Linked DNA regions of Homo sapiens: all the other regions are linked to region 3. Evidence: fine-mapped expression QTL. A gene starts in region 3. Each other region holds a variant in brackets. All regions are shown on one strand. Distances are between the middles of the regions.

Region 1 (7,980 bases), 100 kb after region 3:
GAGTAGTGCTTATATCGAGAGAACACAAATTTTCCCAGAAACCCTCAACTTCTGTCCCACTGGCCAGAACTGTCATTTGGCACCTCATAGCTGCAAGAGAGTCTAGGGAAGAGTGTTTCTCCAGATAAAATGAGACTCGTTAGTGAAGAAGGAGGGATGGAAATAGTATATAATTGTGACTACTATAGTTTGAGTGTGAAAATTGCTCTATTGGAATTTTTTTGTAGCTCTTCCCCTACTATTTCTACAGAGCACTGCCCCGTCTGTTGACTCCTTTGATACTACATGGTTGATGGGGTGCTCACTTTTAGATATGAGAAAAGGGGCTAGAGCATTAATCTCTTCAGTGTTATCCAGGTAGAATTTCAGCTCTTCTGGGTTAAGGAACTGGAAACTTTTCAACTCTCTAGGCCTCATCTCAGCTAGAGAGCTAGTTTTGAAGAAACGTAATTGCTTATGAAGTCATAAATGCAGTTTAAATGTAATTGGCAGTGTTGCAAGTTTAGTGATCCATCGTGGGAGGAGACCACAAGTATCTGCTACAAATTCCTGATTGAGCAATTGATTGATTTAGTTTAGCAGGAGCCTAGGTGACCCTGAGCAAATAGTCCTTCATGGGTGTTCCTGGCCCCTAAGTGTCCTCTAGGGGGTGCTGCTCCCACTGTCATGCTCCTCAAAGATGGAGCCTGCCAGAGGTGAAAGCCCAATTCCTGCCATTGCCCTGCTATCCTCGGGTTTATGTCCCATTCTGGAAGAACTCAAATGTAACATTATTCAATGTTACAAGCAGTCTCACTGTTCAGAAACATGGAGTTCTTTTGGTTCTTGAGTCAAACTTGGTATCAGCAAAGCTACATTCTCATAGGGAGAGAAAACAAGTCTGGGTGTCTCCCCAACTTCCTAGTGCTCCAGAGAGCCTGGCTCCCTGTAATAATTCTTATTCTTAAAAAAAAAGTAACTACATAATAGAGAAATACATTCTGATTTATAAAATTTCAGCCATTCAGACAAAAGAAAGCCTCTTCAATCCCAGTCCAAGTCCCCGTTCCAAAGGAAATCTCTTACTAGTTTCCATCTTTTCAGACCTTTCTCTTTGCATTATACCTAGATACTGGTCAGTTTTGTAGACCAAGCAGTTCTTGAAGGCTGCAATCAAAGACAATTTATGTTTGTTTCCCTCTCTTCTAACCCATTTTACAGGGGTAGTTCTTCCCCATTCCCTGGATGAAATTTAGAGCAAACACCCAGGCAGTTTTACCAATGAGTTCTAAGAATATTCAAAGAAAAAATTCCAATCCTGCACAAAGTATTTGAGGATATAGAAAACATTCCCCAAATTCTATTATAAGGATGGAGTAGCCATGATACCAAAATAATTGAAGAAGAAAATTATAGGATAGGCCAGGCGCAGTGGCTCACAACTATAATCCCAGCACTTTGGGAGGCTGAGGCAGGTGGATCACCTGAGGTCAGGAGTTTAAGACCAGCCTGGCCAACATGGTGAAACTCCCTCTCTTTAGCTGGGCATGGTGGCATGCACCTATAATCCCAGCTACTCAGGAGGCTGAGACAGGAGAATCACTTTAACCCAGGAGGTAGAGGTTGCAGTGAGCCGAGATCGTGCCGTTGCACTCCAGCCTGGGCAACAAGAGTAAAACTCCGTCTCAAAAAAAAAAAAAAAAAGTATAGGATAATCTCATAAATACAAATGTGCAATTATTAAATATATTACTAGCAAACCGAATCTAGCAATGTATGAAAGAGGTAGTGCATCCTAAACAAGTAGGCTTATGCATGTAAAAATCAAGATAATTTACAGTATTAGTAGATTATCTGGGCATCTCAACAGATTAAAGAGAGTGGCTGAGCCCAGTGGTTCACACCTGTAATCCCAGCACTCTGAGAGGACAACACAGGAGAATCACTTGAGGCCAGGCTCAAGACCAGCATGGGCAACATAGTGAGACCCTGTCTCTAAAAAACCTAATAAAAAAACATTAGCCAGGTATGGTAGCACACCTATAGTCCTGGCTACTCTGGAGGCTGAGCTAGGAGAATGGCTTGAGCCCAGGAGTTCAAGGTTGCAGTGACCTGTGATTGCACCATTGCACTCCAGCCCACATGACAGAGTGACACTGTCTCTTAAAAAAAAAAAAAAAAAAGCATTGGCTGGGCACGGTGGCTCACGCCTGTAATCCCAGCACTTTAGGAGGCCGAGGTGGGTGGATCACCTGAGGTAAGGAGTTCGAGACCAGCCTGACCAACATGGTGAAACCCTGTATCTACTAAAAATACAAAAATTAGCCGGGCATGGTGGCATGTACCTGTAATCCCAGCTACTCGGGAGGCTGAAGCAGCAGAATCACTTGAACCTGGGAGGCAGAGGTTGCAGTGAGCTGAGACCTCTCCATTGCACTCCAGCTTCGGCAAAAAGAGCAAAACTCCATCTCAAAAAAAAAAAAAGCATTTAGTAAAATTCAGTATCAATTCATGATTAAAAATATATATTTTAGCAAATTAGGAGTGAACTTTTTTTTTCCGAGATAGAGTCTTGCTCTGTTGCCCAGACTGCAGTGCAGTGGCATGATCTCAGCTCACTGCAACCTCCGCCTCCCAGGTTCAAGCAATTCTCCTCCCTCAGCCTCCCGAGTAGCTGGGATTACAGGTGTGAGCCACCACACCTGGCTAATTTTTGTATTCTTAGTAGAGACGGGGTTTCACCATGTTGGCCAGGCTGGTCTTGAACTCCTGACCTCAGGTGATCCACGTGCCTCGGCCTCCGAAAGTTCTGGGATTACAGTGAAGCCACTGTGCCAGCCAGGAGTGAACTGAATCACTTGAACCCGGGAGGCTGAGGTTGTGGTGAGCCGAGATCACACCATTGCACTCCAGCCTGGGCAACAAGAGCGAAACTCCATCTCAAAAAAAAAAAAAAGAATTTGAAAGCAATGGCTGGGCACAATGACTCACGGCTATAATCCCAGCACTTTGGGAGGCCGAGGCAGGTGGATCACCTGAGGTCAGGAGTTTGAGATCAGCCTGGCCAACATGGTGAAACCTGGTCTCTACTAAAAATACAAAATTACCCGGGCGTGGTGGTGGGCACCTGTAATCCTGGAGGCTGAGGCAGGAGAATCACTTGAACCTGGGAGGTGGAGGTTTTAGTGAGCCGAGATCACGCCACTGCACTCCAGACTGGGCAACAGAGTGAGACTTGGTCTCGAAAAAAAAAAAAAAAAAAGGAATTGGAAAGCAAGATAAAATCTCATTATTTTCAGATAAGGTTGATATGATAAACTATTAAAATTAAGAAATTTAGCAAGTTTGCTGTATGCAAAATCAGTGTGCAAGAGTCTATTATATTGCTAAGCACTAGCAACAAATAGAACACATAATCTTAAAAATCTACCATTTATAACAGATCAAAAATACAAAGTACCTAGAAATGGTCACTCCTGTAATCCCAGCACTTTGGATCACCTGAGGTCAGGAGTTCCAGACCAGCCTGGCCAACATGGTGAAACCCCATCTCTACAAAAATACAAAAATTAGTTGGGCATGGTGGCGTGCGCCTGTAATCCCAGCTACTCAGGAGGCTGAGGCAGGAGAATTGCTTGAACCCAGGAGGCAGAGGTTGCAGTGAGCCGAGATCGCACCATTGCACTCCAGCCTGGGGTGATGGAGTGAGACTCTGTCTCAAAAAATAAATAAATAAACAAAAAGGGAGGATTTTACTGAAAGATTTTAAATGTTGGATTGGAAACTATTTTATGGATAGTTGAAATTGCACTTCAAAAGAGAAACAATTTAATTCAATTTAAGCCAGATAAATGAAACATTGGTTCAAAGTCAGAAATACATAGTCCTCTAAATTTTAGTATAAAGAGACACTTTACAGAAGCCATAAAGTAGCCTGTAGAGGCCAGCAC[C/G]GGGGCTTATGCCTGTAATCCCAGCACTGTGGGAGGCTGAGGTGGGTGGATCACCTGAGGTCAGGAGTTCAAGACCAGCCTGGGCAACATGGTGAAACCCTGTTTCTACTAAAAATACAAAATTAGCCGGGTGTGGTGGCGCACTCCTATAGTCCCAGCTACTTGGGAGGCTTAGGCAGGAGAATCGCTTGAACCCAGGAGGTGGAAGTTGCAGTGAGCTGAGATCATGCCATTGCACTCCAGCCTGGGCACAAAGAGTGAAACTCCATCTCAAAATAATAATAATAATAATAATAATAATAATAATAATAATATTCAAAAAGGAGAATAGTTGGGAAGCCTATAAATTTCAGCCTATCCTAATTCAGGGATCCTGCTTCTAGGAGGAAGAAAAAAAGGCATCCAATAGAGATGAATGAACGTTGTATACCCCCTTTGCCTCCTTTTCAGGATAATTTAGTGCAAACTTTAATACTCGCCATTCAGATGCTCTTCAGTCATAACTCCTAAACATGCTGAGGGCCTGTTGTGTGTCTGAATTAGTGGATAGGGAAATGAGGCACAAAAGGCAATTTTGAAGACTGGCCTCTTTCAGAATTGCAGAGTTTGGTGGACTTTATTTTTTTCTTTTTTTGGGGGGTGGGGGGCGCAATCTCACTCTGTCACCCAGGCTGGAGTGCAGTGGTGTAATCGGCTCACTGCAAGCTCCGCCTCCCAGGTTCAAGCGATTCTCCTGCCTCAGCCTCCCCAGTAGCTGGACTACAGGCGCCCACCACCATGCCTGGCTAATTTTTGTATTTTCAGTAGAGACGTTTCAGCATATTGGCCAGGCTGGTCTTGGACTCCTGACCTTGTGATCCGTCCGCCACAGCCTCCCAAAGTGCTGGGATTACAGGTGTGAGCCCCTGCACCTGGCCTTTGGTAGACTTTATATTGAGGAGCTTTTGTGGCTGAGTAAACTCTGGACTTTTGGAAGGAGAAGAGGTAGAAAGGTGTTCATGGAAAGGGACCCAATCCCCCAGGAGAGGGTTCTTGGACCTCATGCAAGAAATAATTCCAGGGGAGTCCACGGAGTAAACTGAAAGCAAGTTTATTAAGAAAGTAAAGGAATAGGGCCGGGCGGGGTGGCTCACACCTGTAATCCCAGCACTTTGGGAGGCCGAGGCAGGCGGATCACCAGGTCAAGAGATCGAGACCATCCTGCCAACATGGTGAAACCCCATCTTTACTAAAAATACAAAAATTAGCTGGGAGTGTTGGCATGCGCCTGTAATCCCAGCTACTCGGGAGGCTGAGGTAGGAGAATCACTTAAACCCGGGAGCAGAGGTTGCAGGGAGCCGAGACTGTGCCATTGAGCTCCTCCTGCCTGGGCCACAAGAGCAAAACTCCGTCTCAAAAAAAAAGGAAAAGAAAGGAATAGAGCACGTCTGCTCCATAGGCAGCGCGGCAGCTTGGGCTGCTTGACTGAATATACTTACAGTTATGCTAAACAAGGGGTGGATTGTTCATGAGTTTTCCAGGAAGGGGGTGAGCAATTCCCGGAACTGAGGATTCCTCCCCTTTTTAGACCATACAGTGTAATTTCCTGACGTTGCCATGTCATTTGTAAACTGTCATGGTGCTGGCGGGAGTGTCCTTCAGCAGCTAATGCATTATAATTAGCGTCTAATGAACAGTGAGGACCACCAGAGGTCACCTCATTGCCGTCTTGGTTTTGGTGGGTTTTGGCTGGCTTGGTAACACATCTTGTTTTATCAGCAGGGTCTTTATGACCTGTATCTTGTGCTGACCTCCAGGCCTCAGCCTTATTTTAACCAGTCCTTATTCAAGATGGAGTCACTCCGGTTCAAACACCTCTGACAAAGGGATAAAGAAAAACGTGGTCTGCAGATTGTTGCAAATGAACCTAAGCCAGGTTTGATCATGCCTCATTTTTGTTTGGTTGTTTTTTTCCTTTTTTTTTTTTTTTTTGAGACAGGGTTTCACACTGTCACTCGGGCTGGAGTGCAGTGGTGCGATCTCAGCTCACTGTAAACTCCACCTCCCAGGCTCAAGTGATCCTAACACCTCAGCCTCTCAAGTAGGGACTACAGCCACCACACCCGGCTAATTTTTGTGTTTTTTTGTAGACGGGTTTCACCATGTGACCCAGGCTGGTCTTGAACCCCTAGCCTCAAGTGATCCACCGCTTCAACCTTCTAAAGTGCTTGGATTACAGGTGTGAGCCACCTCACCCGGACATGCTTAGGTTGTTTCTGTAAAGTTATAGCTACCTATGGAGTTTGAGGTGGTGAGGGTTAACTAACTTCTGACAACCCCCCTGCCAGATTATAATGAAAGCAAGTCGCAGACCAAATCTTGTCACACACCTGAAAGCTCATTTAAGCAAACATTTGTCAGCAAAAGTGTTTGTTCAGCCTATCCTGTAGCTCACTATAATCCATGCTCTCTGTCCCAAATGCTCTGTCCACAACTTTGCATGAAAAGTTCACTTGAGGCAGAGAGGGAAACGTGCCAGGGGCCAGGATTCTGTTACCCTTAAAGATGGCATCATGTAACCAGACATCCTCTTAACTAGTGGCTGGTCACAGGATTATGTAACGATGGAGCCCTGAGGGCCATTCCTAAGGGGTCGCGTTGCTGACCTCACTAGATTCTTACACCTTGTTTATGCAAAGGCAGCAGGAGTCTCTCAAATAACTTTAGCCAATGGAAGGATCCCGAACACCTTTCATTTCACTGATGAGAGCCCACTGATGACCTCATTACCAATTAACAAGCAACTCAGTTCATCAGGAAACAGCCATTTCTTTTTCCATTTATTTATTTATTTATCGAGACAGTGTCTAGCTCTGCTGCCTAGGCTGGAGGGCAGTGGTGTGATCATGGCTCACTATAGCTTTGACCTCCTGGGCTCAAGCAATCCTTCCAGTTCAGCTTCCTGAGTAACTGGGAGCAGAGATGCTCGCCACTACAGCTGGCTACTTTTTTTATTTTTTGTACGGATGGGGTCTCACTATGTTGCCCAGGCTTGTGACTGCACAATGGGTTCCCCTTGCCCGTTGCCTAGGCAGAACTGATACCTCACGACAGGGGAACTGCAGTACAGAAAGAGTAATTCACGCAGAGCCGGCTGTACAGGAGATCGCGGTTTTATTATTATTCAAATCAGTCTCTCCAGGCATTGGGGGATCAGTGTTTTTAAGGATAATTTGGTGGGTGGGGGAAGGCCAGTGAGAGAGTGTTGATTGGTTGGGCCGGAGAGGAAATCATGGGAAATTGAAGCTGTCTTCTTGCGCTGAGTCAGTTCCTGGGTCGGGGCCACAAGATCAGATGAGCCAGTTTATCCATCTGGGTGGTGCCAGCTGATCCATCAAGTGTGGAGTCTGCAAAGTATCTCAAGCGCTGATCTTAGGAGCAGTGTAGGGAGGGTCAGAATCTTGTAGCCTCCAGCTGCATGGCTCCTAAACCATCATTTCTAATCTTGTGACTAATGTTAGTCTAGTCCCCCGGCAAGAAGGAGGTCTGCTTTGGGAAAGGGCTGTTACCGTCTTTGTTTTAAACTATAAATTAAGTTTCCCCCCAAGTTAGTTCAGCCTACGCCCAGGAATGAACAAGGGCAGCTTGGAGGTTAGACGCAAGATGGAGTCGGTTAGGTCGGATCTCTTTCACTGACTCAGTTACAATTTTGCAATAGCGGTTTCAGGCTGATCTCAAACTCCTAGGCTCAAGTGATCCTCCCGCCTCGGCCTCCCAAAGTGTTGGGATTACAGGTGTGAACCCCCACACCCAGCCAAAAAATCTATTTCTGATCATCACTCAGCTTGTTAACTGAGCCTCAGGCGTTGATTGAGATGTAGATAATAGAAATGCTTGCAGTACTGCACTCCAGTCTGGAACAACAGAGCAAGACCCTATCTCTTAAAAAAAAAAAAAAAGTGCCAGTAGTAGCTGCCTCTAGTGTGTAAGTAACCTTTCTGACTAGACACTGGCTACCCTTATGTGTGAATTTTCTTTCTTTCTTTTTTTTTTTTGAGACGGAGTTTTGCT
Region 2 (7,293 bases), 85 kb after region 3:
AACAACTTGACAATTCTGTGTGAAGTTAATACGGAATTACCAGATGACCTAGCGGTTCCTCTGCTGGGTACAGAGCCAAGAGAATTAAAATCATACATCCATACAGAAACCTTCATGCAGCCACAGAAGTGGAAATAATTCAAACCTGGTGAACAGTGGAATATTATTTGGTCATAGAAAGGAAGGAAGTGCCAATCCGTGTTACAGCATTGAACCTTGAGAGTACTGTGCTAAGTGAAAGAAGCCGAACAACAGATGGCAGCAGATTCTGACCGTCTGTTTCCTGAATGCTTTTCATCCAGTTGCCAAAGATTCCAGTTTATGTGGGCCGTTAAAGTACTTCTATAGAGGTGATTAGTTTAGACCACTTTTCAGAATGACATTAAAGCCCTCTAATGTTATTCATTCATTTAGCCAGTATTGGTTTGGGTACCTGCCATGCGCTGAGCACTATTCACAATGCTGTCTAAAAGAACCCACAAAAATTCCTGCTCTTACAGAACTTGTCTTCTAGTGGGAAAAGAGAAAAACAAAATAAATCAGAATAATGTGTCATACATTGAATAATGGACTCTTGAGTACTGAGACTGGCAGGAAGGAGGTTAGGGTGTTTACTTTCAAAAGGTGCTTAGAGAGCTGGGCACAGTGGCTCACGCCTGTCATCCCAGCATTTTGGGAGGCCAAGGTGGGAGGATTGCTTGAGCCTAGGAGTTCAAGGCCAGCCTAGGCAACATAGTGAGTCCCCATCTCTACAAAAAAATTTAAAAATTAGCCAAGCATGTTAGTGTGTGCCTGTAGTCACAGCTAATTGGAACCATCATCCTGCCCCAGTGCGTGGGTCACTTGGGCCCAAGGAAGATGAGGCTGCAGTGAGCTGTTATCACATCACTGCACTCCAGCTTGGGTGACGGCTAGGACCTGTCTCAAAAAAAATACAATAAAAATAAAATGTAAAATTAAATCAAAAGCGTGCATAGGGAGGGCTTCCCTGAGGTGACATTTGGACACAGGAAGTAAGAGCGTGATACTTACCTGAGGGAAAAGCATTCTAAGCAGAAGGCACAGCAAGTGCAAAAGCTCTAAAGCAGGAGCGTTCCTTGTGTATTGAGAGATGATTCTGGACCTCAGCACAGCTGGCGTACGCTGAGCAAACAGCGAGAGGTGCGGTCGATCGGCGAAGAAACCAGGCCAGACCGTAGTGCCTTATGAGAGCTCTGGAAGGATTCTGGCTTTTACTGGAGGCCAAATGGGGAAACTGTTAGAGAGATCTGAGCAGAGAAGCAAAGTGGTCTCCTTCAGTTTTAATAGGATTTCCCTGGCTGCGTTGTTGAGAGATCCCTGAGGAAGGCAAAGGCAGAGCAGAAGACCAGTCAAGAGGCTGATGTCATAATTCAGGCAAGCAGTGATGATGGCCTAGACCAGGGCAGTATCAGTGGAGGTGGGAAAAAGTGGTGTGAGTCTGGATGTATTTTGAAAGAAGAGTCTACATGAGAGAGAAAAGACTAACGGGATCTGTTCCCAAGTAACTCAACTGCATTCCTGTACAAAGCTGAAGAGTCTTACAGGGCTGCGTCTATAGCCAGGAGTACGCTCAGGCTTCAGAAGAGGCTCGCCTCCAGTGGCCTTCACTGTGGCAAAAAGGTCTACTTGAACCTCAGTGAGATCGGTAAAATCACCAGCGCCAAGCTCCTATCAGCAGATCCAGAAGCTGATCAAAGATGGGCTGATCATCTGCAAGCCTGTGACTATCCATTCCCAGGCTGGATCCCCGCAAACAAACAAACAAACAAACAAACAAAAAAAACACCTTGGGCCGGGCACGGTGGCTCATGCTTGTAATCTCAGCACTTTGGGAGGCCGAGGTGGGCAGATCACTTGAGGTCAGGAGTTCATGACCAGCCTAACATGATGAAACCTCGTCTCTACTAAAAATACAAAAATGAGCCAGGCATGGTGGCGTGCACCTGTATTCCCAGCTACTCGAGAGGCTGAGGTGGGAGAATTGCTTGAAACTGGGCGACAGGGAGAGATTCTGTCGCAAAAAAAAAAAAAAAGAAAAAAACACCTTGGCCCACAGGCATATGGGCATAACTGCTAATGCACACATTACCAAAAAGGCAGCCTGGATGAGGAAGATGAGAATTCCACCCCAGCTGCTCAGAAGACACTATGAATCTACCGAGATTGACCTTCACGTGTATCAGAGCCTGTACATGAAGTGAAGGGGGACGTGTTCAGAAACAAGCAGGTTCTTCGGAACTCATTCCAAGCTGAAGATAGACAAGGCCTCAAGAAGCTTCTCATTGACCAGGCCAGGGCACATGGCTCTAAGACCAGGAAAGCACTGTAGTTCCACGGAGAGTGCCTCTGGGCCAAGAGAAAATCATTAAGACTGTCCCAGGAGGAAGAAACTAAGAAATAAAGGTCTCCCTCTCTCGTCTGTACATAGTGGATCTTGGTGATTACATAGATCCAGTCATTCAAATACAACAAGATTTTATCTGCCTGATGGGGGGAAAAAGCATATTGGTAGGAATACAGAAATAGCCAGGACCCAGCAATCACCCAGACATCAGTCAAAGTTTACCAGACAGGCAAAGGAGCAGGCAGATGCAGCCCATAATGAGAAAAACTTCCAGGCAACTGGAACGGACAGAAGTTCATTAAAACAATCTCACGACTGCATTTCAGTTGTAAGAACTTTAAATGCATATTGCTTAGTGAAAGAATCCAGTCTAAAAAGGCTACATATTATTTCAACTGTAGAGAGTAAAAATGATTAGTGGTTATGGGGTTTGGCAGGGGATCGGGGGTAGAGAGGATGAGTAGGTGAAGCACAGGGAATTTTTTTGGGCAGTGAAATTACTTTGTATGATATTATAATGGCGGACACTGGAGAGCATTCATTTGTCAAAGCCCATGGAACAACTAGGCACGGTGGTGCACACCTGTAGTCCCTGCTGCTTGAAAGGCTGAAGCAGGAGGATCTCTTGACCCCAGGAGTTCAAGGCCAGCCTGGGCAACATATCGAGAATGCATTAAAAAAAAAAACAAGACCATAGGACTGTGTAATGTAATACAGAGTGAACCCTAATGTAAACTGAGGGCTTTAATTTAATAGAAGTGTATCAATATTGGTTCATTTGTAACAAATGTCCCATAGTATAATAATGTAGACAATAATAAAACTCCACATTGGGGAGGTTGCGTGTGGGAACTCTGTACTATCTGTTCAATTTTCTGTAAACCTAAAACTTCTAAAAAATTAGTCAGTTAAAAATAATAATTTAGGACCAGACGCAGCGGCTCATGCCTGTAATACCAGCACTTTGGGAGGCCAAGGTGGGCAGATCGCTTGAGGTTAGGAGTTTGAGACCAGCCTGGCCAATGTGGTGAAACCCCACCTCTACTAAAAATACAAAAATTAGTCAGGCGTAATGGTGCATGCCTGTACTCCCAGCTACTCGGGAGGCTGAGCTGCAAGAATTGCTGGAACCCGGGAGGCAGAGGTTGCCATGTGTTGAGATCATGCCACTGCATTCCAGCCTGGGCAACAGAGCGAGACTGTGTCTGAAAAGAAAAATAAATAGGCCAGATGCAGTGGCTCACACCTGTAATCCCAGCACTTTGGGAGGCCAAGGCGGGCAGATCACAAAGTTGGGAGTTTAAGACCAGCCTGGCCAACACAGTGAAACCCCGTCTCTACTGAAAATACAAAAAATTAGCCGGGCATTTTGGCGGGCGCCTATAATCCCAGCTACTCGGAAGGCTGAGGCAGGAGAATCGCTTGAACTCAGGAGGTGAAGGTTGCATCGAGCTGAGATCGTGCCATTGCATTCCAGCCTGGGCCACAGAGCCAGACTCCGTCTCAAAAATAAATAATAAATAAATAAATAAATAAAATTCAATTTATAGAAATGTAAAGGAAATAATTAGAACTATGTAAGGATTTTCTAAAGGGAGTTGATTAAATTAGGAAACATTCATATAAGGCAATATTTACTTAAGCCATTACAGTAATTTTATAGATCTAGGTAGTTATTAGTAATGATGACCTGGGATAATTTGTTTTTTTGGTTTTTATTTTTGAGACAGAGTCTTGCTGTCTTGTCCAGGCTGGAGTTACAGTGGTGCAATCTTGGCTCACTGCAACCTCCACCTCCCATATTCAAGCAGTTCTCCTGCCTCAGCCTCCCGAGTAGCTGGAACTACAGGCATGTGCCACCACACCCAGCTAATTGTTTTTTTTTTGTATTTTTAGTAGCGATGGGGTTTTGCCATGTTGCCCAGCCTGGTCTCGAGCTCCTGAGCCCAGGCAATCCACTTGTCTCAGCATCCCAGAGTGCTAGGATTACAGGCATCAGCCACCATGCCCAGCCTAATTTGTTTTTGTTTGTTTGTTTGTTTGTTTATTTTTGGGACGGAGTCTCGCTCTGTCGCCCAGGCTGGAGTGCAGTGGCGCAATCTCGGCTCACTGCAAGCTCTGCCTCCCGGGTTCACGTCATTGTCCTGCCTCAGCCTCCCGAGTAGCTGGGACTACAGGCGCCCACCACCACGCCCGGCTAATTTTTTGTATTTTTTAGTAGAGACAGGGTTTCACCATGTTAGTCAGGATGCTCTCAATCTCCTGACCTCGTGACCGGCCCGCCTTAGCCTCCCAAAGTACTGGGATTACAGGCGTGAGCCACCATGCCCGGCCTTGGTTTTTTTTTGTTTTGTTTTTTGTTTTTTAAGTTTTAACAAATCTCATTTTTTTTAATGATATGTATGACTTGAAAAAAATTTGAGAAACCTAAACAGGATGGTCAATGGTGAGGTTGTGGTTATTTTTAATTATTAACATTGTTTTATTTTTTAAAGCAATATGGGCTGGGCACAGTGGCTCACACCTGCAATCCAGCACTTTGGGAGGCCGAGGCAGGTGGATCATTTGAGGTCAGGAGTTCAAGACCAGCCTGACCAATATGATGAAACCCCACCTCTACTAAAAATACAAAGATTAGCAGGTCATGGTGGTATGCATCTGTAATCCCAGCTACTCGGGAGGCTGAGGCAGGAAAGTCACTTGAACCCAGGAGGCAGAGGTTGCAGTGAGCCAAGATTGCACCACTGCACTCCAGCCTGGGTGACAGAGCAAGATTCCGTCTCAACAAAAAAAAACAAAACAAAAGCAATATGTATTGCATTTATAACCGAAGAAAAACCAAAGGTGAATCTGATTTC[A/G]GAAAAGTAACTTAAGGAAATGTAACATCTAAAAATAAGAGGAAAGTATCAAATCTAAATTTAAATGGGATAATGATAACCCCAGTTTAGTATTTATGGTGATTTTCTTTAAAGAAGAAAGAATCCCTTAGACTTTATGGAGTGCTCTGTGACCGTGTTGAGCTATCTTAAGTGGATCAAAGATGTTCTTCTATTTTTAGGCCTTGTACCTAATAGCAACTAATGGAACCCCAGAACTTCAGAATCCAGAGAAACTTTCCCCAATATTTCGGGATTTCTTAAATCGATGTTTGGAAATGGATGTGGAAAAAAGGGGTTCAGCCAAAGAATTATTACAGGTAAATTTAAAAATGATTTCATTTGGGGGAATAGTTGACTTTTTTGGTAACCGACAGAAAGCTTTCCTAGGGCTAATAAGTAGATTTCACTACTCATTGATCACCAGCGGTATGGCAGCTGCTGCAATTTAGGGTTTCATCCTACCATGCTGAGCAAACTACCGCAAGGACAGAAAACCAAACACTGCATGTTCCCACTCATAGGTGGGAATTGAACAATGAGAACACCTGGACACAGGAAGGGGAACATCACACACCGGGGCCTGTTGTGGGGTGGGGGGAGTGGGGAGGGATAGCATTAGGAGATATACCTAATGTAAATGATGAGTTAACAGGTGCAGCACAGCAACATGGCACATGTGTACATATGTAACAAACCTGCACGTTGTGCGCATGTACCCTAGAACTTAAAGTATTAAAAAAAAAAGTGAGGGTTTCATCTGCTGTGAATAAAATTCTGACAAAACCGTAATGTGCAGTTTGTGCATCGTATCAATCCTCAGACCTGTTTACAGTTTGTGCATCGTATCAATCCTCAGACCTGTTTACAGTTTGTGCATCGTATCAATCCTCAGACCTGTTTACAGTTTGTGCATCGTATCAATCCTCAGACCTGTTTACAGTTTGTGCATCGTATCAATCCTCAGACCTGTTTACAGTTTGTGCATCGTATCAATCCTCAGACCTGTTTACAGTTTGTGCATCGTATCAATCCTCAGACCTGTTTACAGTTTGTGCATCGTATCACTCCTCAGACCTGTTTATTGCTGTTGTGTGTATATTTGTCAAACTAAAATGATTCTGCTTTCATTCAACTCTGAAAGTAATGCGTTGATTATGTTAGTCTTATGAAGGTATTAATATGTGTTTAGTTTATTAAATTATGATCGACAAGTAGTCTTTGGGGCTTAATTGAACAAAATTATTTTGTTTCTAACCTGATGAATGGCACTTATACATTTATTTTTCCCCTTCTTTCTGGCAGCATCCTTTCCTGAAACTGGCCAAACCGTTATCTAGCTTGACACCACTGATCATGGCAGCTAAAGAAGCAATGAAGAGTAACCGTTAACATCACTGCTGTGGCCTCATACTCTTTTTTCCATTTTCTACAAGAAGCCTTTTAGTATATGAAAATTATTACTCTTTTTGGGGTTTAAAGAAATGGTCTGCATAACCTGAATGAAAGAAGCAAATGACTATTCTCTGAAGACAACCAAGAGAAAATTGCAAAAAGACAAGTATGACTTTTATATGAACCCCTTCTTTAGGGTCCAGAAGGAATTGTGGACTGAATCACTAGCCTTAGGTCTTTCAGCAAACAGCCTATCAGGGCCATTTATCATGTGTGAGATTTGCATTTTACTTTGCTGACTTTGTTGTAATAGATCCCATTCATTGTCCCCTTTGGGGTATTTCCAATACTTGAATGGCAGATTGGAGTTTTTCAGAGTATGTGTTTCATCTGCTAGTCTTTCTCTCCTTCATAGCTTTTCTTTTCCTGGACTTGCTCCTTTTGAGTTGCTTTTGCGTTTCTCATGCCTAGGCAAGTGTAATAGAAATTATGTAGCTCCTTATGTTGGCAAAGGAGCTCTATATAGTTTCACTTTGTATAAAAGTTAGGACCAGCTGTTGTTACATGTAATATTTTAGTTCAGAACTTGACCTGAAGGAAGGGAAGAAAAGTATGTGATTTTTACCTTTTTTAACAAATGTGAAAAAGTCAGTTTTA
Region 3 (7,980 bases):
TGCTCTGTCGTCCAGGCTGGAGTGCAGTGGTGTGATCCCTGCTCACTGCAACCTCTGCTTCCTGGGTTCAAGTGATTCTCCTGCCTCAGCCTACCAAGTAGCTGGGACTACAGGCGCACACCACCACACCCTGCTATTTTTTATATTTTTAGCAGAGACAGGGTTTTGCCGTTGTTGGCCAGGCTGGTCTTGAACTCCTGATCTCAGGTGATCTGCCCACCTCAGCCTCCTAAAGTGCTGGGATTACAGGTGTGAGCCACTGTGCCCAGCCGGTAGCTGTACACTTCTAAGCTTGGTTATTTTCTCTTGGTACTTTGAAAATATACCATTATTGACTGGCACCCGTTTTGCTGTTGTGAAATCTGCTATGAATGTAATAGTTGTTTGTACAGAATGTCTTTTCTCTCTGGTTGCTTTATCTCTGGTATTCTGCGGTTTCATTTTCATGTGTTTGAAATTTCTTTACTTATCCTGCTTGGTATTCAGTTTGCTTCCTGAATCTGAAGATTCCTGTCTTTAATCAATTCTGGAAATTTTTCAGCCATTATCTCATCATTATCTGCCTCTCTTGGTTTTTCTCTTTTCTCTCCTGGAATTCTCATTAGGAGTATGGTAGAGACCTTAACAATCTATCCCCATGTCTCTTAAGCTTGCTTTCATTTTTCCTGTCTCTAGGCTGTTCTCAGTAATTTCTTTTGGTCTGTCTTCCAGTTTACTAATTTTCTCTTCAATTGTGTGTAATCTGCTATTTAACCAAACATTGGCTTTGGTTTCAGTTATTCTTTGTTTCTAGAAATTCTACTTAATTCTTTTGTTGTTGTTGTTTTTGTTTTGAGACGGAGTTTTGCTCTTGTTGCCCAGGCTGGAGTGCAATGGCATGTTCTTGGCTTACTGCAACCTCCACCTCCCAGGTTCAAGTGATTCTCCTGCCTCAGCCTCCTGAGTAGGTGGGACTACAGGTGCCCACCACCACGCCTGGCTAATTTTTGCATTTTTAGTAGAGACTGGGGTTTCACCATGTTGGCCAGGCTGGTCTCGAACTCCTGACCTCGGGTGATCTGCCCACCTCGGCCTCCCAAACTGCTGGGATTACAGGTGTGAGCCACCGCGCCTGGCCTACTTATTTCATTTTCAAAGCTGTTTGGTCGTTAAAAAAAAAAAGCATCTTGTTTCTTGCTCGTGTTTTCTAGCTCCTGTCTTACTTTCTTTAATCATTTAAATAGGCGTACTGTATATTCTGTAGCCATCAATTCCAGCAGCTAAAGTCTGTGTGGGTTTCATTATGTTCTTTGTAGTTTCTATTGACTCACTCATCGCTGCTTATTTCCTCAGGTGTATTGTATTTCGGGTGCTCATGTTTGGCTTCGGAAATCCTGTTTATCTGTGAAATCCTTTGAGACCGAGGTTGAGGGTACACCTGTGCAGTCAGGATTTGTATTTGTTTCTTCCAGGCCCCCCAGAACTCCAGCCTGGGACCACTTTCTTGACAAATTTGAACTTTAAAACCTTAGTGAGGGAAAATTCTAAAGGGTTATTAATTCTAAAGGGAAAATTTTCTTCTGCCCTGCAAGCCCACTGCAGGCCAAAGTAAACAAATGTCCTGTGTGTCTCCCTGGGCTAGCATAGGGTTTTTTTTCCCCCCAGTCTGTTCTTGGAGGGTATAGCGCCTTGAATTTCCAGTCCTATGCAGGATCACAGTCCTGACTTCTTGTATAGGCCCAAGTCCTTGTCTTTAGTTTCCTGTGCACCTATTAAAACTCTAGAGATTTCTGAGATAAGTAGGTGCCCTCAACACAACCATGGCTTCACTGCCCTGCTTACCACTCTGGTGTCCTGCCCCTTCTTCAGGTTGAGTGTGAAATTTGGAAGACTGTCAGAAACATTCTATTTTCATTCTTGCAAGTTATGCCTTTGAAAGGATGTCTTATTTATCCAGTGTTTCTGTGTGTTTAATAATCAGAGCATTTTTCAGGTTATCTCTTACTGTGCCATGTTGCTCCTTGATTCCTTTCTCTCCTGTACCCACTGCATCAATTGAGTTTTTTGCTCTACATTGATAGAGAAGCACAATTCCTCTTTCTTTCCACTGCCTTCCTACTTTATTTCCCTTCTATTCTTGCATCTCTATACTCCATTATCCACATTGCAGTCTAGTGATCTTAAAGTGTAAGCCAGGTAACATCGCTTTCCTGCTTAAAAAAGCCTTTTAATGGTTTTTTGTAATATAGACTTTTTACCATGGCATTCAGGATCTTTCATGACCTGAATCTTGTCTGCTGTAGTGTTTTCTTAATAGTACCGCCTTCTTGTTCTAGGCCCCAGCTACACAGGCCTTCTTAACTGACCGTAGCAAGCCCTTTTCTTTCTTCTCCTGCCTGTATTGCTTTTCTCTGGGTGCTTCTTATTGCTGTCTCTTTCTGTTCTTGCCTTAAGTGTCACCTCCTTAACGAGGCCTTCTCCGACCACCCTATCCAAAGTAACCTCGCCAAGTTTTTTCTTATACCAGGTGTGACTACTTTAATTACTGCGTCCTCATATAAGCTCCACAAAGGCTTGGTGAATCGTGTTCACCCTTGCATTTCTTTTGTGTTTTTTGTTTTGTTTTTGAGGCATGACGACTCTGTCACGCTGAAGTGCAGTGGCCCGATCTTGGCTCACTGCAGCCTCCTCCTCCTGGGTTCAAGCGATTCTCCTGCCTTAGTCTCCCGAGTAGCTGGGACTACAGATGCGTGCCACCATGCCCAGCTAATTTTTGTATTTTTAGTAGAAACGGGGTTTCATCGTGTTGGCCAGGCTGGTCTCGAACTCCCGACCTCAGGTGATCCGCCTGCCTCAGCCTCCCAAAGTGCTGGGATTACAGGCGTGAGCCACCGCACCTGAACCACCCTTGTATTTCTGATGCTTAACAGTGTCTAGTCCATATCAGACACTCAAATATTTGTAGAATAAGTGAAACATTGATGAACTCCTCCGTGGATAAAATAGGGAAGTCTTAATTTGCAAGGAGGTGATACTTAATTTAGCAGCAAAATTTTAGTTAAGAATTTGTAAGCAAAAAAGCAAAATGGATAACGGATGAATTCCCAGAAACAAATGTCGCGGAGCAGATGTGTATAACAGCAATCGTCTGTCAGCGTCTTCCGTCGGCAGAGACCTGCTTGGAGACAATGCTGAATTAAATGAGGGACTGGCTGCTCCTCTCAATACAAAGACTACCCAAGGAATAAAAGCAACGTCTATCACCGAACTACTACTCCCAGCGGCCCCCGCGCGGGCCTGCCCATGGGAGGTGGCGCTCGTCTCCGCCCCGGGGAGCTCCGGCTTCGGGGCGGGAGGGGTTCTGGGTTCTGGCCCCGCCCCGCCCCGCTCCCCGCCGTCTTCCTCCCCCAGGGTTGTGGCCACGCGCAGCGGCGGCGGTTGTTCCGCTTCCCCTCCGGCCCGGGCCGTCGCCATTGCCGAAGGCTCCCTCCCCTCCCCTCCCTGGCGTGCGCAGGACTCCGCCGCCGCTGGGCCTAGCGGTAGCAGCGGCTGCTCCAGCGCGGCGTCTCTTCCCGCCCCGCTTCCCCTTCCCTCCCCTCCCCTCCCCGCACCGCGCGCTAGCCCGGGGCGGCTCCGCAGCCCGCCGGGAGCTCTGACCGAGGCGCCTCGCTGGGGCGGGGACCTTGCCTTGCCCGGGGTAAGTGCACACAGGCCGGCCGGCGCGGGACGCAGGCCGGGTCTCTTCCTCCTCCTTCCTTCTCCGTGGCCTGGCGGGCGGGAGCGGCCCGGGACGGCCGACCTGCCCCGCGCGGGGCCGGGGAGCCGCCACCTGCGTGCTGGGAGCCGCAGCTCCTGGGGCGGTGGCTCATTGTCTGCTCCCCAGGGCCGTTTTCTTCGCTGGCTTTAGCCAGAAATGGGAAGCTCGCTGGGCTGCGGAGGTCTGACTCTTCCTGGACCCAGCCCTGCTCTGAACCTCGCGGCACCACGGTCTCTGCCGACTCTCGGTCTTCCCTCCCCTCGCGTTTCACCCTCTTCCTTTGCTCCGTTTTCTTAATGCTGGACCAGACTCTCCGGTTTTGTTCCTTGATTTTTCCTCTCACTGATTCTCAGCCCCTGCTTGCTCGCTCTCTGTTCACCCGTTTCACTGCTCAGGAATATTGTCGCGAGTAGCTTGACTGTTTTCTCAGCTCCAGCCTGTAACCTCTTTTCCACATTCCACATTGGTAAAAACGTAGAGCGTCCCGGGCGCTTGAGGGCCACCGCTTACGAACTGATCTTTCGGAGCTTCTCCTCGCTCCTGTTTGAGCTTCAGCCTAGGGGTGAAATTTGCTTCTTTAGATAACTTAGGTGAAGTTAAGATTGGTTTTTCACCATGTTTGGCTCTCTTGGAAACACACGCACGCACAAACACAAAACGTTGCCACTCAACCTTTTAACTAATTCTTTAAAGATAAGTCATCCAAGAACAGAAGCGTGTCATCGTCAGTGGGTGTGAGGTTGTACCCATCCTTGTATCTTAATTTTAGTAGTACTCTCCCTGGGCAGTGTGAGCGTGATTTGTTGTCCCTTGATAAATAACGAACTCCGGTTGATATCATTATCTCACTTCTGCGTTACAGGCGATGTGTCCTTTCTTTGTTTTCTTTTTTAACCTTTATAAAAAGACAAAATGGTTAGGCCTAAAATTAAACTACGAAGAGCTGTGTTTTGGATCAAGGTTGTGCACGTCACGTTTTTTCCCCTGCTGTGTTCGACTCTTCCGCTCTTATAAGTAGGCAGGATATTGAAATGTACAAGAATTTGCTCTGGGGATTTTGTTTTTGTAGGGTTGTCCAATAGAATAACACTCAGTAAAGTTACATTGGGATGAAGGCAGTGAATAGTAATTTTTAAAGCAGGTTAAAACTTGTCAACTTTGCCAGAAGGTCTGTGGCTTCTGTAAAGCCCACTCATGCTCGTGTATATATGAAGAGCCTTTTTCATGTTCTGTTAGGAGTATGGATTTCAGGCAACTTTTTCACTGTGTCATCCTCGGCTATTAAATCTTTCGAGCTACTTATTAGCCAAGCACATTGATTGACACTTATTACGGAAAGTGAACCTGTAATAGATGTAGGTCTTAAACCAACTTTCCGATTTGGTAACAGGTTGACCTAAATTCAGTGTATTTTGTGTTTTCACTAAGTAGCCCATTGTTACCTTTCCCTCCAGCAAGGCTCTGAAAAAAGTGGCTCCAATACTCAGCTTCAATACTGTCATCATTTCTTAAATAGTAGTATCAGTTGTCCTTAACTTAATGGATGTTTTATTGGCCTGAGGGATTAAGGTGTAGAAAGGTTGGAGTTTTGTTGGAGTTTGAAACTTGGTCTGTAGATGTTGGCTTCTCTGCCAGTTTCTTCTAATCAGCAGATATTTTTATGAAGGAAGAGTTCCTGGGTATTTCACTTCCCTTAGGGCCTTGGTTTATGGTTTACTCTCATTCAGAGAGAGATACTATTCTGGACTCCGTGCTATTTAATACTAACCTTGCAAACCCAAATTCAAAATTAAGTTTATAGTTCGAGTATACAGGCGATAGGGCTCTCTGATCTTTATGATAGACAGGTTCCCAAGTAGATGCGGTTAACAATTAATATTTCTTTTTTTTTTTTTTTTTTGAGACGGAGTTTCAGTTGCCCAGGCTGGAGTGCAATGGTGCGATCACCGCAACCTCCGCCTCCTGGGTTCAAGCGATTCTCCTGTCTCAGCCTGCTGAGTAGCTGGGATTACAGGCACGCGCCACCACGCGCGGCTAATTTTGTATTTTTAGTAGAGATGGGGTTTCACCGTGTTGGTTAGGCTGGTCTCGAACTCCCGACCTCAGGTCATCTGCCCGCCTCAGCCTCCCAAAATGCTGGGATAGGCGTGAGCCACGGCACACCACCAACAGTTTCTATTTCAATTATACTTTTTAAGAGAGACTAGAACTTGTTCAGGTAGCTAAAGATAAACTTTCAATTATACTTTTCTAATATTTAAGAACTTCAAGTAGCCAAGGATAAAATGAGTAGGAATTGTTAGATTCTTCCTTTTATCCATCAAAATCGATTATTATTATAATAATATTTGAGTATATTTCTTTTGGCTTTCTGACTTTTACACTTTTGGTTAAAATTTGAAACTGGGTCTTCTTCGCCGGGCGCGGTGGCTCACGCCTGTAATCCCAGCACTTTGGGAGGCCGAGGCGGGCGGATCACGAGGTCAGGAGATCAAGACCATCCTGGCTAACACAGTGAAACCCCGTCTCTACTAAAAATACAACAAAAAATTAGCCGGGCTTGGTGGCAGGCGCCTGTAGTCCCAGCTACTCGGGAGGCTGAGGCCGGAGAATGGCGTGATGAACCCGGGAGGCGGAGCTTGCAGTGAGTCGAGATCGCGCCACTGCACTCCCGCCTGGGCTACAGAGCGAGACTCCGTCTCATTAAAAAAGAAAAAGAAAAAGAAACTGGGTCAACTTCAAGACTTTAAGTCGTAAAGGTTTCCATCAGTTTGGTATAAGAGTTGAGTTTCCAGACTAATCAGAGGGAGGGTGTTAATTGCAAATTGTGTGTCCAAGCTCTTCCTAGTATCCTTTTTGTGCCTTAACAGAGCAGAATAGGAAAGGAAAAAAATCCCTCATTGCCCCCAAAAAATAAAATACTGGTTGTTTTCTTCTGTGATCAGAGTTGAGTTTCATCACTTCTTCCCTTCTAGGGTCACCTGCCTGGTTAAGGGTAGTCAGTCTGAACATTCATTCAGGATTTCAGTGTTCCAGCCTACTATCTCTGAGTTTCTTTAGTACTTACTCCATGTATCCCATGTGGTTAGGAGCTAGAGTCCTGCGTTTGAATTCTTGCTGTTCTACTTTACCCTGGGCAAGATATACATTCTTTTCAAGACTTGCTTTTCTCACCTGTAAGATGGGGATAATAATAATAATACCAATTTCACAGGGATATTTAGATCAAATGAGGGAATGCAGGTAAAGGATTCTGTAATTATAGGTCTTAATAAACGTTAGTTAATAGTCTGTTCTTACATGCTGTAGAGTCGATACTCCTAAACTTAGAATTAAAACTGCCTTCTAGGCCGGGTGCGGTGGCTCACACCTGTAATCACAACACATTAGGAGGCTGAGGTGGGCCGATCACTTGAGGTCAGGAGTTCAAGACCAGCCTGGCCAACATGGTGAAACCTATATTCTCTACTATTCTTTAGTAGAGAATTTAGTATTCTCTACTAAAAATAAAAATATTAGCTGGGCGTGGTGGCGGGCGCCTGTAATCCCAGCTACTCAGGAGGCTGAGGCAGGAGAACTGCTTGAACCCAGGAGGCAGAGGCTGCAGTGAGCTGAGATTGCGCCACTGCACTTCAGCCTGGGTGACAGAGTGAGACTCCGTCTCAAAAACAAACAAACAAACAAACAAAAAACTGCCTTCTAAAAGAACGAAGTTTCTGAGACCGTAACTAAAAATAAAAATTACTTTTGGATGAATAAAATGTAATTTTTCAGGAGAAAAAATATGTAATAGTTTCACCACTGAAATAAAACATAGGGTTTTTGAACACAAATTTCTCAGATTTAAAAATATGCATATTTCCTGTATAAAAGTTGAAAAGTGGGCAGTGGCTGGTGGTGCCTGTAGTCCTAGCTACTTGGGAGGCTGAGGATCCTTTGAGTCCAGGAATTTGAGGTCAGCCAGGACAATACAGGGGGACCCCATCTCTTAAATCAGACAAAAATAAAAGTAGAAAAAAATATTAAATAAGAAATTTGGAAAGTGGTAAAAACTTTTAAGACAAAATTACCTTAGTCTCAGCTGGCAGAACCATTGTAACAAACTGGAACAGTGGTTTTGTTCCTTATTTTAAATTTAAATTCTAAAAGCAGTACATATTTATTATAAAAGGTTCAAACAAGTCAATTAAATATTTAAAGAGTGAAAATTCTTTGGGAGACTGAGGCAGGAGGATCACCTGAGC
Region 4 (6,737 bases), 93 kb after region 3:
AATTATTTGAGTGCCCTCCCTTCTCCCCTCCCCTCCCTTTTCTCTTCTCTTTTTTCCTCTCCTCTTCTTCTCCTTTATTCATTGTTTTGCTTTTGGAGTGGGTGTTGTTCAAGTATCTGTGGTTTGGTTCTGGCATTTTGTTCCCACCATCCCCTTCCCCCATTAACTTCCCCCCTGCTTGCCATCCTGCAGTAGTATAAATCATGAATAAAAAATAATTTTGCTGTTGTAGTATACATTGGAGAAACTGGCAGGTTTTATTTCCATTATTTTATTTCCACTATATCTATGATAAGATGCAATTATAAGGAGAGAAGTGACTGTTTTTTATTGATAAGGCAAGATTTTCAGAAAAATGAGTAAAATAATTAATGAAACATATTTAGAGCACTTAATGGTCTCTGTTTTCAATATAATTCTTGATTTCATTTTTCTCTGGAATATATTGGCCTTCTACAGCTATTACTGAATTATAGAAACTGGTTTATTTCTGGCAGAAAGCTGCAGTGCCACCTGAGTTCCAAATTTTACCATTCTTTGTAAACAGTTGGATGGATTATGATAAAGAAGATGCTACCAATGAAATAGAAAACCAACGAGATGAGAAGACTGTGATCCTCATGTACTCAGAGGCACTTCCCTCCTAAGTCAAAGACCATCCTCACTGACTATGTGCCAACGCCTCGTTTCAGGCTTGTGACTCAACAAAGGGCTTTTCCATTGATAGAAGCAGTTTGGGATTTGTAGTTGCGACTTCTTCGATAGTTACCTGCACGTCCATTGCTGGCAACTGACTTGTCATTAAAACCTGGCTCTTTGGTTAAGGGAGCTACGCTGTGGTTTATTCTTAAGTTACGTGGATAAACTAACCTCTAACAGAAATATACTTTGGTTAATTTTGAAATGTGTCATTTTTAAACAATCTTAAAAGTAATACAGAATTGTGATTTATTAATTTTAAAACATTCAGAACTTGTTGAAAGAAAAATTATATCTGAATCAAGATTCATGTTTTTTATTTTTATTTTTTTTGATACAGAGTCTCACTCTGTCACTCAGGCTGGAGTGCAGTGACATGATCTCAGCTCACTGCAACCTCCGCTTCCTGGGTTCAAGCAATTCTCATGCCTCAGCCTCCTGAGTAGCTGAGACCACAGGCACCCGCCACCACACCCAGCTATTTTTTTGTATTTTTAGTAGAGACAGAGTCTCACCACATTGCCCAGGCTGGTCTCCAACTCCTGAGCTCAGGCAGTCTGCCCACCTTGGCCTCCCAAAGTGCTGCAGTTACAGGCGTGAGCCACTGCACCTGGCCTCATGTTTTTTAAATAATTGCCTTTTATATTTACCCTTTTTGTCATCACTTTAGAATGAAAATTCCCATTTAAATCTGAAAGTTACCTTAATAGTCCTCTTGTGTTATTAGGACAGTATTATTATAGTACTTATTTATTTTATTTTAGATTTAAAGTTATCTTCTCTTTTTCTTTTTTCTTCTGCTGCTTTTAGGGACAATTAAAACTGGGAAACTATGAAACATGGAACATTTTATCCTACCTGAAAGTAAACGAGTAATTGTGAAGCATAAGACACTGAGGCTAATACAACTCTGTCTTCATGTGTTGACTGCCTGGCACATAGTATTCATTCTCTTCCCTTTAACATAGAAGTGTCCAGCTGCGTACAGTCTAGTAACCAGCAACTGTAAACGAACCTGTGCCTCTAACAAGCGATTCTAAACCACCTATGAGTATTTCTTTTAGGGCTCACTTAAATACATGTTTGTATATACTGTATTCTAGCCAGAATAATTTTAGATCTGATCAGGTAGTAGCTAAAATTAGAAAAAAACAAAATAGATGCTTAAAGAATTTGCATCCATTTTTGAGTCTAAATCTTTTAAAATATACTGAGATCCACATCTAGTGAAATGTCAGTGTCAAAATATTATAGATTATAGCTAAAATCCAGATTAATACTCATTTGGGGTTTTTTATAGTGGAACTTCATAGTAATACAAAAAGCAGATTGTCTTCCTGTCTCCGCTGCTCCCACAGTAGGTATTGAAACTGGTAAAATCAGTTTTTTGATAGTGTGTGTATATAAGAAAAAATAGATACACACATTCTTTTTTCTCAGTCAACACATTGATTGAACACTCTGGCAAAGATGCTGTGGTGGATGAGGTTGGAGTTCGAAAGAAGA[A/G]GCAAGCGCTGGCCTGGCCTTGAAAGAACCGAAGTCTTTCCCATTCACTTCTCTAGAAAGCTGCCAAGACAGAGGCAGAAAGAAATGGATGATAGTTCTGTCAAGCACACTTCTGTTCTCTTAGAACTTAGAAGTGTTTCTAAGAGAACAGAAGTAATAAGAGAAACAGTTACGTGTGGAATTCAACATCTTTGGTTGGAACGCATTGGCTTTTTTTTTCTTGTTTTGATAGAAATGGAATTAAGCAAAAGTAGTTTTTGTCTTTTCTGTTGTCTTCAAATTTTATGCCTTTTATTTTTAATTTAATCCCGTTCAATTATTTAATTGTTATACATTGACATTAACTGCTGTATTTTGACTTTGTTCAATAATTTTGTTCTTTCAGGGCTAGAAATAAACTTTTTAAAAAAAGTGTGCATTTTTCCCTTTCCTAAACTTTTATTCTTTCTTTTGATCAGCGTAAAAGAATATTTTAATGTCTTTTGATAGCATAAAAGAATATTTAAATGTCTTAATAGGTTTTCAAAGAACATTTAGTATTTTTAGTGATAAATGTTTTAAACCTTTTAATGGTGTTGTGCCATCATTTTGAATTTATTACAAAGCTCCAAAGTAGGAAGGTTTCTAGAAATGTGTGGGCAGTAAACATGAAGTTTTCCTTTTTTTTTTTTTTTTTTTTTTTTTTGAGACAAGTCTCACTCTTTCTTCCAGGCTGGAGTGCAGTGGCGCCATCTCAGCTCACTGCAACCTCTGCCTCCCAGGTTCAAGTGATTCTCCTGCTTCGGCCTCCTGAGTAGTTAGGGGAAGTTTTCCCTTTCTAAATCAAGTTCAGAATAATTTTCTTTATCAATGTTTCTCTATCAGACCCAGGGAAACAGTTCTGATTTGAACACACACCTTGCTGGAGTAATAAAAACCTGATCAGAATTTCTGTGTTAAGTGAACCAAGAAACCTTTTAGAGTGCAATACGTCGTAAGGCATCACTTCATTATGTGAATTAATTTGGAATCTTAGGTACCCTAACATAGGGAACAGCCACAATAATGGTTTACTATCAAAAAGCATAAAATAAGGCCAGGCGTGGTGGCTCACACCTGTAATCCTAGCACTGGGAGGCTGAGACTGGCGGATTGCCTGAGCTCAGGCAGGAGACCAGCCTGGGCAACATGATGAAATCCCATCTCTACTAAAATACAAAAAAAAATCAGCCAGGTGTACTGGCACATGTCTGTAGTCCCAGCTACTTGGGAGGCTGAGGCACAAGAATTGTTTGAACCCGGGAGGTGAAGGTTGCAGTGAGACAAGATCATGCCATTGCACTCCAGCCTGGGTGACAGAGCAAGACTCCTGTCTCAAAAAGAAAAAAAAAAAAAAAAAAAAAAAAAAAAAAAAAAATATATATATATATATATATATTCTGGGTGAGAAGGGGAGGCAATGACTTTGAAATGTATTTGTTACACTATATGGCTGTTTCGTCTTGTTCTAACATTTATATTTCTTTGAACTAATAGCAAATGCTCAAAGCATTGCCTAAGAAAACTTTTAAAAGCCTGTGGTTAATTTCAGAAGCTCTATCTCTAGGGCTTGGCGGGAGGATGGCTCGAGCCTGGGAGGCAGAGGTTGCAGTGAGCCAAGATGGTGCCGCTGTACTCCAGCCTGGGTGACAGAGCAAGGCCCCTGTCTCAAAAAAAAAAGAGTTGGTAATTGCCTATATCTCTATAAAGAGAATTTTATAGTCTCAATAATCCTGATTATAGCTGTTTTACCCATACATCTTAGTTTGGGGTTAGGGAAAAAGACTAAAAATGCTGCATTTCTGGGAAACAATTTGTTCAGAAAATGACAGCATTTATATAAACTTGTGAGTTACGTGAAGAGACTGCTGATCTTCGCCGGGCGCGGTGGCTCCCGCCTGTAATCCCAGCGCTTTGGGAGGCCGAGGCGGGCGGATCACGAGGTCAGGAGATCGAGACCATCCTGGCTAACGTGGTGAAACCCCGTCTCTACTGAAAATACAAAAAATTAGCCGGGCGTGGTGGCAGGCGCCTGTAGTCCCAGCTACTCGGGAGGCTGAGGCTGGAGAATGGCGTGAACCCAGGAGGCGGAGGTTGCAGTGAGCCGAGATCGCGCCATTGCCCTCCAGCCTGGGCGACAGAGCGAGACTCCGTCTCAAAAAAAAAAAAAAGAGACTCCTGATCTTGAAAGGAATGACGCCCGTGGATACGTCATCTCTGGATAGTTGTTAGAAGGTGCCCGTTGCATTCCCTCGTTCATCCGTCCCAGTTTGCTCTGGAGCAGATGCAAACGTCTCACCCTCGTAGTGCTGTAACAGGCCAGATAGAGTGACAGTGCCAGATAGAGTGACAGTGCCATACATTTCTGTTTTTCATTCTTAGACCTGTAGGTATGTACAGCACAGCATCATCAACGCGTTGCCAAAAAACTATTTTCCTCCAATTCTTAATAAACTACTTCACTTTGACTTCTATATTTAAAATAGAAGTATAGGGCCAGGCGCAGTGGCTCACACCTGTAATCCCAGCACTTTGGGAGGCCGAGGTGGGTGTATCTATCACCTGAGGGCAGGAGTTTTAAGACCAGCCTGGCCAACATGGTGAAACCCCGTCTCTACTTAAAATAGAAAATGAGCCGGGCATGGTGGCGGGCGCCTGTAATCCCAGCTACTCAAGAGGCTGAGGCAGGAGAATCGCTTGAACCCGGGAGGCAGAGATTGCAGTGAGCCAAAATCACACCATTGCACTACAGCTTTTTGAGACTCCGTCTCAATAAAATAGAAGTGTACCATTTTCAAAACCTAGTTGATCACGGCCATAAAATTAAGTAATATCTAACAGTACAATCCAACTGTGATTGCTTTAATATATTGTCAGTAAAATCTTTAAGGAGTTTCAGGATTGAAACTAGAAGACATCTTAGTCACATTCAATATTCCTTACATTTTAGTACACTTTACGATTTGCTGCTAGTATCTTTGTTGAGCTGTTTTTCAGTAAACTAAAAATCTTAATCATTTGAGGTTTTAGTATAGATACTGTCACTGTTTTGTTCACACTCTTGGTGCTGTAGGAGTGTAAATGACCATCTCATTTGTTCATCTGTTCATGCTCTATTGGAGCATGCCGTAAGACTGTGGTGTCATTGAAAGTGACCTTTGGCCATGGACTGTTGGATATGTGGATCAGCTACTTTCATATAACTTGCATTGTCAGCAAATACTTTTCCACTTCCCTTCAGCCCTGCGTATTTTACCACGGATAAACGGTGTTCCATTATGCGCCTGCTCTGTCCCATTTCCGTAGTGTCTTTTTTTTATGACAAAGCACAGCTGGTCAAGGTGTTATCATGGGTCTGAGTGCACGAGTGTTTGTTGCTGCACGTTCCCCATCCAGTCACTAAGCAAGACACAGAACTGTATGAAAGCTTATTTTTACTTAGTTTCATCTTAGAGTCACATTTGAACTTGTGAGTTTCTTTTAAATGAAACTGTGTTTAATTTTGAGATTTGCTGCTAGGGGGAGGACTCCTTACGCTTTTTGAAGTTAGTAACAGCCCTCTCTAGTAGAATGTGCACAAAAACGGTTAATGTGAATTGGTGGGCTTGTTTCTGTGCTTTGTTTTGAGTGATAATACAAGGGCCTACATCATAGGGGGTTTTCAGGGTTAAATTCATTCATTTCAAATAAAATATTTAGAATGATGTCTAGCACAAAGTCAACATTTGATAAATGTAGTCTCCTCTCATTGCTTTTTTCCCCTCTGATATTGCGGGAGCAGATGCAGAAGTAACAGGATGCTGCACAGAGCTATTTGCACTTTTCTCCCATCTCTCGTATTTAAAAAATGGATGCATTATGGAAATTATGCTGCAAATATTACACAGCTTTTTTTTTTTTTTTTCTAACACAGGATCTCACTCTGTCGCCCAGGCTGGAGTGCAGTGGCACAATCTCGGCTCTCTGCAATCTCTGCCTCCTGGATTCAAGCGATTCTCCTGCCTCAGCCTCTGAGTAGTTGGGACTACAGGCACGTGCCATTACCGCCCAGCTAATTTTTTGTATTTTAAGTAGAGGCGGGGTTTCACCATGTTGGCCAGGCTGGTGTTGAACTCTTGACCTCAAGTGATCCACCCGCCTCAGCCTCCCAAAGTACTGGGATTACAGGCGTGAGCCACCACGTCTGGCTGTTCCACAGCTTTACACAAAGAAGGCCCCCAGTACATCCCTATTTGGTCACACAGTGTGAAATTGTGTATTTTACAGTATTGCATAGTTGGCAATATGAGACTGTGCATTGTAGTTTGGATAATCACTTCCCTGAAGGGATATTGCAGATAAAAAAGTTTAATTTGAGAATTGGTTCTTGAAGTTTTTGTTTGTTGTTTTTTGAGACAGAGTCTCACTCTGTCACCCAGGCTGGAACGCAGTGGCATGATCTCTGCTCACTGCAACCTCCGCCTCCCGGATTCAAACAATTCTCCTACCTCGGCCTCCCAGGTAGCTGAGACTAC

The links.
Region 1: its variant is fine-mapped to the expression of PAK2 in whole blood (INTERVAL, PIP 0.92).
Region 2: its variant is fine-mapped to the expression of PAK2 in skeletal muscle (GTEx, PIP above 0.99).
Region 4: its variant is fine-mapped to the expression of PAK2 in whole blood (TOPMed, PIP above 0.99).

What each region holds. Positions count from the first base shown.
Region 1 is chr3:196,837,401-196,845,380 of GRCh38, forward strand. No RefSeq gene overlaps it. Among named protein-coding and RNA genes, the nearest start is that of SENP5, 27 kb to the right of the region's middle. RefSeq lists a silencer at 4,599-4,753. The variant C/G (reference allele first, on the strand shown) is at 3,930.
Region 2 is chr3:196,821,773-196,829,065 of GRCh38, forward strand. It overlaps PAK2 (p21 (RAC1) activated kinase 2), which reads left to right. Exons shown (of 15, transcript NM_002577.4): 14 at 5,424-5,561; 15 at 6,547-7,293. The coding sequence ends at 6,633. Among named protein-coding and RNA genes, the nearest start is that of SENP5, 43 kb to the right of the region's middle. The variant A/G (reference allele first, on the strand shown) is at 5,224.
Region 3 is chr3:196,736,482-196,744,461 of GRCh38, forward strand. PAK2 (p21 (RAC1) activated kinase 2) reads left to right here and starts at 3,376. Exons shown (of 15, transcript NM_002577.4): 1 at 3,376-3,676. RefSeq lists a silencer at 3,167-3,956.
Region 4 is chr3:196,829,873-196,836,609 of GRCh38, forward strand. It overlaps PAK2 (p21 (RAC1) activated kinase 2), which reads left to right. Exons shown (of 15, transcript NM_002577.4): 15 at 1-2,775. Among named protein-coding and RNA genes, the nearest start is that of SENP5, 35 kb to the right of the region's middle. The variant A/G (reference allele first, on the strand shown) is at 2,206.